Linked DNA regions of Homo sapiens: region 1 is reported to be linked to region 2. Evidence: microRNA targets listed by miRTarBase, many of them from high-throughput screens and not tested one by one. Region 2 holds a microRNA gene; the other region holds the end of a gene's coding sequence.
Evidence for each region. The annotated mature microRNA hsa-miR-3689d reads GGGAGGUGUGAUCUCACACUCG and lies in region 2 at 874-895, shown strand. An mRNA with a match to its seed (bases 2 to 7 or 8) in the 3' UTR can be bound and repressed. Matches are read on the target gene's strand: a 7mer-m8 pairs with bases 2 to 8, a 7mer-A1 pairs with bases 2 to 7 and ends in A, and an 8mer does both.

Region 1: the mRNA of MRPS16 is a reported target of hsa-miR-3689d. Seed matches in the 3' UTR shown: 7mer-m8 at 1,905-1,911.

What each region holds. Positions count from the first base shown.
Region 1 is chr10:73,248,408-73,251,407 of GRCh38, forward strand. It overlaps MRPS16 (mitochondrial ribosomal protein S16), which reads right to left. Exons shown (of 3, transcript NM_016065.4): 3 at 442-2,584. The coding sequence ends at 2,445. It overlaps DNAJC9-AS1 (DNAJC9 and MRPS16 antisense RNA 1), which reads left to right. Exons shown (of 4, transcript NR_038373.1): 2 at 1-43. Among named protein-coding and RNA genes, the nearest start is that of DNAJC9-AS1, 2.5 kb to the left of the region's middle.
Region 2 is chr9:134,848,061-134,851,226 of GRCh38, reverse strand. MIR3689D2 (microRNA 3689d-2) reads left to right here and starts at 871; the gene lies at 871-950. It overlaps MIR3689C (microRNA 3689c), which reads left to right and starts at 1,858; the gene lies at 1,858-1,929. MIR3689A (microRNA 3689a) reads left to right here and starts at 1,663; the gene lies at 1,663-1,740. It overlaps MIR3689D1 (microRNA 3689d-1), which reads left to right and starts at 1,545; the gene lies at 1,545-1,618. It also overlaps MIR3689B, MIR3689E, MIR3689F and LOC101448202.

The sequences.
Region 1 (3,000 bases), not on the chromosome of region 2:
ATTTGAGATGGCTGGTAATCGTTCTCAGAACATAAAACACAAAGTAAGTCGGCACATTGATAGAACCTCCTCTATAAATTTCCTATATCTTAGTCACACACCAGAGTTAAGCCATCTGTCTTTGCTCATTTTTCCCTCTATGGACAACATAATATGTTGGGAAGGGCTTTCCAGGAGGGCATAACCGGGAGATGAATCTTACATCACTGGGCAAGTTTCCACCTCTAGGCCTCAGCTTCCCTATCTGTAAAACGGAGATAATCCTACCTGCCTTCATAATACCTTACAATTGTCACAAATAACCTTGTACACAAAAGGCCTAGGATATATGTAGATGCTTTGCAATATTATCTTTCTTCCAGTTTCTTGTATTTTTTAAGGTATTCAAATACATCTATTTTAACATTTTTCTATATATACATTTGCTACGGAAAATTGAAATCGCACACTGAAATATCCTTTTATTGCAACTCAAATTTTCAAAAACCAGAAAATCAAATTATTATGCTCTAGCCAAATTATGTAATGTTTTCTTTTTCTTTTCTCTGTCACCCAGGCTGGACTGTAGTGGAACAATCACAGTTCACTGCAGCATCGGCCTCCTGGGCTCAAGTGATCTTACTGCCTCAGCTTCCCGAGTAGCTGGAACTATGGGTGAGCAACACCACAGCCAGCTAATTTTTTAAGTTTTTGTAGAGACGGGGTCTTGCTGTGTTGCACAGGCTGGTCTCAAACTCTGGCTTCAAGTGATCCTTCCACCTCAGCCTCCCAAAGTGCTGAGATTACAGGTGTGAGCCACTGCCCCAATGGTATCTTTATATTATTTTTCCTTACAAGTTACTTCAAATTCTTGATGTTGAATTTCATCTCACTGACTTCAGGCTTTTAAAACACATGGGAATACTTGAGACCTAAGAATGGTTGTGAGTCAAATAAAAAAGTAGAACTAAAGTATACTGAAGTTATTCAAATACATTCAAACTATAAAGATCCCTTATAGATTACTGGCATCAAGGTAGGAAGGAAAAGATACAAGAAGTAAAATGCAACACTCATTACAGGTTGTCAACATTATTGGTATACAGTTTATCCTAACACAGAGCAGCCTTCTTAACCTGCTCCATAAAATTACCAGCAAGAAAGAAAAGTACAAGAATAAGGTTCACAGCTGAATTGGCTTGGTGTCCTAATTCCCTATTCCAGTATTCTCAGAAGGATCCCATCTATGATATATGCAGAAATCACAGCCACATTTGAATGGTTCAATCTTGATTCATACTGAACTCCCTTAAGCCCAGCAGTTTCTCATTCTTAAAAGGTAGGTTATTAGAGCCCCAAAGCAATTTTCATAACAAATCTACCTTTGTATATTTAAGAATATGCATTAAGGCTAGGAGTGGTGGCTCACGCCAGTAATCCTAGCACTTTGGGAGGCCGAGGTGGGCAGATCACAAGGTCAGATTGAGACCATCCTGGCCAACACGGTGAAACCCCATCTCTACTAAAAATACAAAAATTTGCCCGGGCGGTGGCTCACGCCTATAATCCCAGCACTTTTGGGAGGCCAAGGCGGGCGGATCACGAGGTCAGGAGATCAAAACCATCCTGGATAACATGGTGAAACCCCATCTCTACTAAAAATACAAAAAAATTAGCTGGGTGTGGTGGTGGGCACCTGTAGTCCCAGCTACTCCTGGGACTACTCGGGAGGCTGAAGCAGGAGAATGGCATGAACCCAGGAGACAGAGCTTGCAGTGAGCCGAGATCGCGCCACTGCACTCAAGCCTGGGCGACAGAGCGAGACTCCTCTCAAAAAAAAAAAAAAAATTAGCTGGGTGTGGTGGTGCATGCTTGTAGCTCCCCGGCTACTCAGGAGGCTGAGGCAGGAGAACCTCTTGAACCCAGGAGGTGGAGATTGCAGTGAGCTGAGATTGCACCACCGCACTCCAGCCTGGCAACAGAACAAGACTCCGTCTCAAAAAAAAAAAAAAAAAGAGAATATGCATTAGGCAAGACAATATAAACCTCCAATTACAAAAATCAATTAAGAAAGGTTAACTGTTCTTGCACTTGTGGGATGAACATGAAGATCTGAATGGGCCATGAATAGTCTGGCTGGGGGTTTTGAAGCAGGAAGTCTTGGAAGCCAGTAAATTGTAAAGTTGTCCAAGAGACCCAGAGCCCAACTCAAAAGTCCAATCCTCCCATAGCCACTGTCTATCCCAAGACAAAGTCGAAAAAAGCTAATTAGTACCCACACCCAGCTCTAAGTCACACAAGAACAAATCTCTCCCTGGGCCCTGTGCAGGCCAGGCCAGAAGAGCAAGGGCAACTCAGGATACTCCATTTATTGAACTCCAAATCTAACAAAATTAAGATCGCTGCAGTGTTTCAAAAGGACCTTGACCTTGTTCCCACTGCTATGCTCACTAAAGTCAGCTCATTTATGTTTCTGTAGCCTCTGTATCTGTAGCTTCTGCATCTGTTTTCTGAGAAGCTAACAGGACTTCACGTGCCCGTTTCCTTCGCAGTCTCTCAGCATTTGTGATCATCATAGGATGCAGAGGGAAAAAGCCAGCAAGACCTAAAAGTAACAGATTTTTCACTTATTATAACACAGTATAAGCCAATGCTTCCCTAGGAACTCTGTCTCACAGAACTGAGGTCTGAGATCTGACCCAGTGCATGGATGCAAACCATGCTCCTCACTTGCCAAACTCTGTACTACTTCTCCCCGGCAAGGAGACAGTGGATGTCTACTTCCCTAACAATATTCCCCTTACTTTAAAAAACGTAAACTGACAGATGGCCATTCAAAACATACTATTCCTATTTTTAGCATAAAATACCAGTCACCCAAAGTCTTACAAAGGAGTCCACAAAAGGGGCCTCCAGATTCAAAATGCCAATTAGATCACAACTTCAGCTCCCACTTCAGTCCTGAACAGCCTAGAGGGAATGAAATAACTCTTTTTTTTTTTTCTTTGAGATGGAATCGCC
Region 2 (3,166 bases):
GGTGGGGTGTGGGACCTCACACACTGCAGGTTCTACCACCACCTCCCCGCGGGTGGCTTGGCTTAGAAGGCCTAGAGGTGGACCTAGAATGCGTACTTTTAGGGGGCTCCCCGGATGACTTCAACAGGCAGCCAGGTGGGGGCCACTGATGGGCAGACACCAAGAAACACCAGGAACACTTCTGCTAAGCGCTGGCCTTGTCCCATTAAGAACCTGTGGCTCCCCTGGGAGGTGTGATCCCGTGCTCCCTGGGAGGTGTGATCCCGTGCTCCCTGGGAGGTGTATCCTGTGCTCCCTGGGAGGTATGATCCTGTGCTCCCTGGGAGGTGTATCCTGTGCTTCCTGGGAGGTGTGATATCGTGGTTCCTGGGAGGTGTGATCCTGTGCTTCCTGGAAGGTGTGATCCTGTGCTTCCTGGGAGGTGTGATATCGTGCTTCCTGGGACGTGTGATGCTGTGCTTCCTGGGAGGTGTGATCCCACACTCGCTGGGAGGTGTGATCCCGTGCTCCCTGGGAGGTCTGATCCCGTGCTTTCCTGGGAGGTGTGATCCCGTGCTCCCTGGGAGGTCTGATCCCATGCCTCCTGGGAGGTGTGATATCATGGTTCCTGGGAGGTATGATATCGTGGTTCCTGGGAGGTGTGATCCCGTGCTCCCTGGGAGGTCTGATCCCGTGCTTCCTGGGAGGTATGATATCATGGTTCCTGGGAGGTATGATATCGTGGTTCCTGGGAGGTGTGATCCCGTGCTTCCTGGGAGGTGTGATCCTGTGCTTCCTGGGAGGTGTGATCCCATGCTTCCTGGGAGGTGTGATCCTGTGCTTCCTGGGAGGTGTGATACCATGCTTCCTGGGAGGTGTGATCCCACGCTCACTGGGAGGTGTGATCTCACACTCGCTGGGAGGTGTGCTATCGTCTTCCCTGGGAGGTGTGATCCTGTTCTTCCTGAGCGGTGTGATCCTGTGCTCCCTGGGGGGTCTGATCCTGTGCTTCCTGGGAGGTGTGATATCATGGTTCCTGGGAGGTGTGATCCCGTGCTTCCTGGGAGGTGTGATATTGTGGTTCCTGGGAGGTGTGATCCCGTGCTCCCTGGGAGGTGTGATCCCGTGCTCCCTGGGAGGTGTGATCCCGTGCTCCCTGGGAGGTGTGATCCCGTGCTCCCTGGGAGGTGTGATCCCGTGCTCCCTGTGAGGTCTGATCCTGTGCTTCCTGGGAGGTGTGATATCGTGGTTCCTGGGAGGTGTGATATCGTGGTTCCTGGGAGGTGTGATCCCGTGCTTCCTGGGAGGTGTGATCCTGTGCTTCCTGGAAGGTGTGATATCGTGGTTCCTGGGAGGTGTGATATCGTGGTTCCTGGGAGGTGTGATATCGTGGTTCCTGGGAGGTGTGATATCGTGGTTCCTGGGAGGTGTGATCTGGTGCTCCCTGGGAGGTGTGATCCCATGCTTCCTGGGAGGTGTGATCCCGTGCTTCCTGGGAGGTGTGATCCTGTGCTTCCTGGGAGGTGTGATACCATGCTTCCTGGGAGGTGTGATCCCACGCTCACTGGGAGGTGTGATCTCACACTCGCTGGGAGGTGTGCTATCGTCTTCCCCGGGAGGTGTGATCCTGTTCTTCCTGAGAGGTGTGATCCTGTGCTCCCTGGGGGGTCTGATCCTGTGCTCCCTGGGAGGTGTGATATCATGGTTCCTGGGAGGTGTGATCCTGTGCTTCCTGGGAGGTGTGATATCGTGGTTCCTGGGAGGTGTGATCCCGTGCTTCCTGGGAGGTGTGATACTGTGCTTCCTGGGAGGTGTGATCCCGTGCTCCCCAGGAGGTCTGATCCCGTGCTTCCTGGGAGGTGTGATATCGTGGTTCCTGGGAGGTGTGATATCGTGGTTCCTGGGAGGTGTGATATCGTGGTTCCTGGGAGGTGTGATATTGTGGTTCCTGGGAGGTGTGATCCCGTGCTTCCTGGGAGGTGTGATCCTGTGCTTCCTGGGAGGTGTGATCCTGTGCTTCCTGGGAGGTGTGATCCTGTGCTTCCTGGGAGGTGTGATATCGTGGTTCCTGGGAGGTGTGATCTGGTGCTCCCTGGGAGGTGTGATCCGGTGCTCCCTGGGAGGTGTGATCCTGTGCTTCCTGGGAGGTGTGATCCTGTGCTTCCTGGGAGGTGTGATATCGTGGTTCCTGGGAGGTGTGATCCGGTGCTCCCTGGGAGGTGTGATCCAGTGCTCCCTGGGAGGTGTGATCCCGTGCTCCCTGGGAGGTGTGATCCCATGCTCCCTGGGAGGTGTGATCCCGTGCTCCCTGGGAGGTGTGATCCCGTGCTCCCTGGGAGGTGTGATCCCGTGCTTCCTGGGAGGTGTGATCCCGTGCTTCCTGGGAGGTGTGATCCCGTGCTTCCTGGGAGGTGTGATCCCGTGCTTCCTGGGAGGTGTGATCCTGTGCTTCCTGGGAGGTGTGATCACATGCCTGCTGGTGATAGAGAGGCACAGCTCCCCATTGGGGAACAACCAGGACCCAGCCCTGGGAGGTGTGGATTCAGGAGGGCCCCAGAGGCCTGCATGAGCTAGTGAGAGCTAGGAGGTGGTGTCCGCACTGGGAGCGGGACCCACACAGAGGGCACGTGGGGTAAGCATCAATGAAGTTCCGGGTGTCAGCCAATTGCACCCTCCCAATGGCCCTGGAGCAGTTGCAAAAGCTTCCTGCTCTCCCATCGTCCCCTTCTCCAACCCACTCCCGAATGCAGACGCCCCTGGCCCTCCTGGGTGGCCAGAGCCTGAGGACACTCACTAGGACAGCCCTGGGCAGCTCAAAGGAGCACTTTGGCCTGGCACAGGCCAGCTCCAGGGATGCCCCCACCTTCCTCCACATGCATGGATCGGGTTTCGTCACCAAGACATCTGCAGGACAGGAGCGGGGCCTCTGGCCACATGGCCAGAGTGCCTCCTCCATTCATGGGTCCCATGTGCAAATGGGCAGACAGGAGCTCTGAGCAGCAGATTCCCCGAGGCCACATGGGGCACTGGTGGCATCTGAGCCTGGGTCGCTGAGGCAGCTGTCCTCAGCCTGGTCTCACCAGGCCACAGCTGTCAGTGGGTAAACGTGTGTGCGCGTGTGTGTGTGCTCCTGCGGCACTGTGGGGGTCATGCCTGTGGCTGAGCATCTCCTGGAATTCTCTCGTCT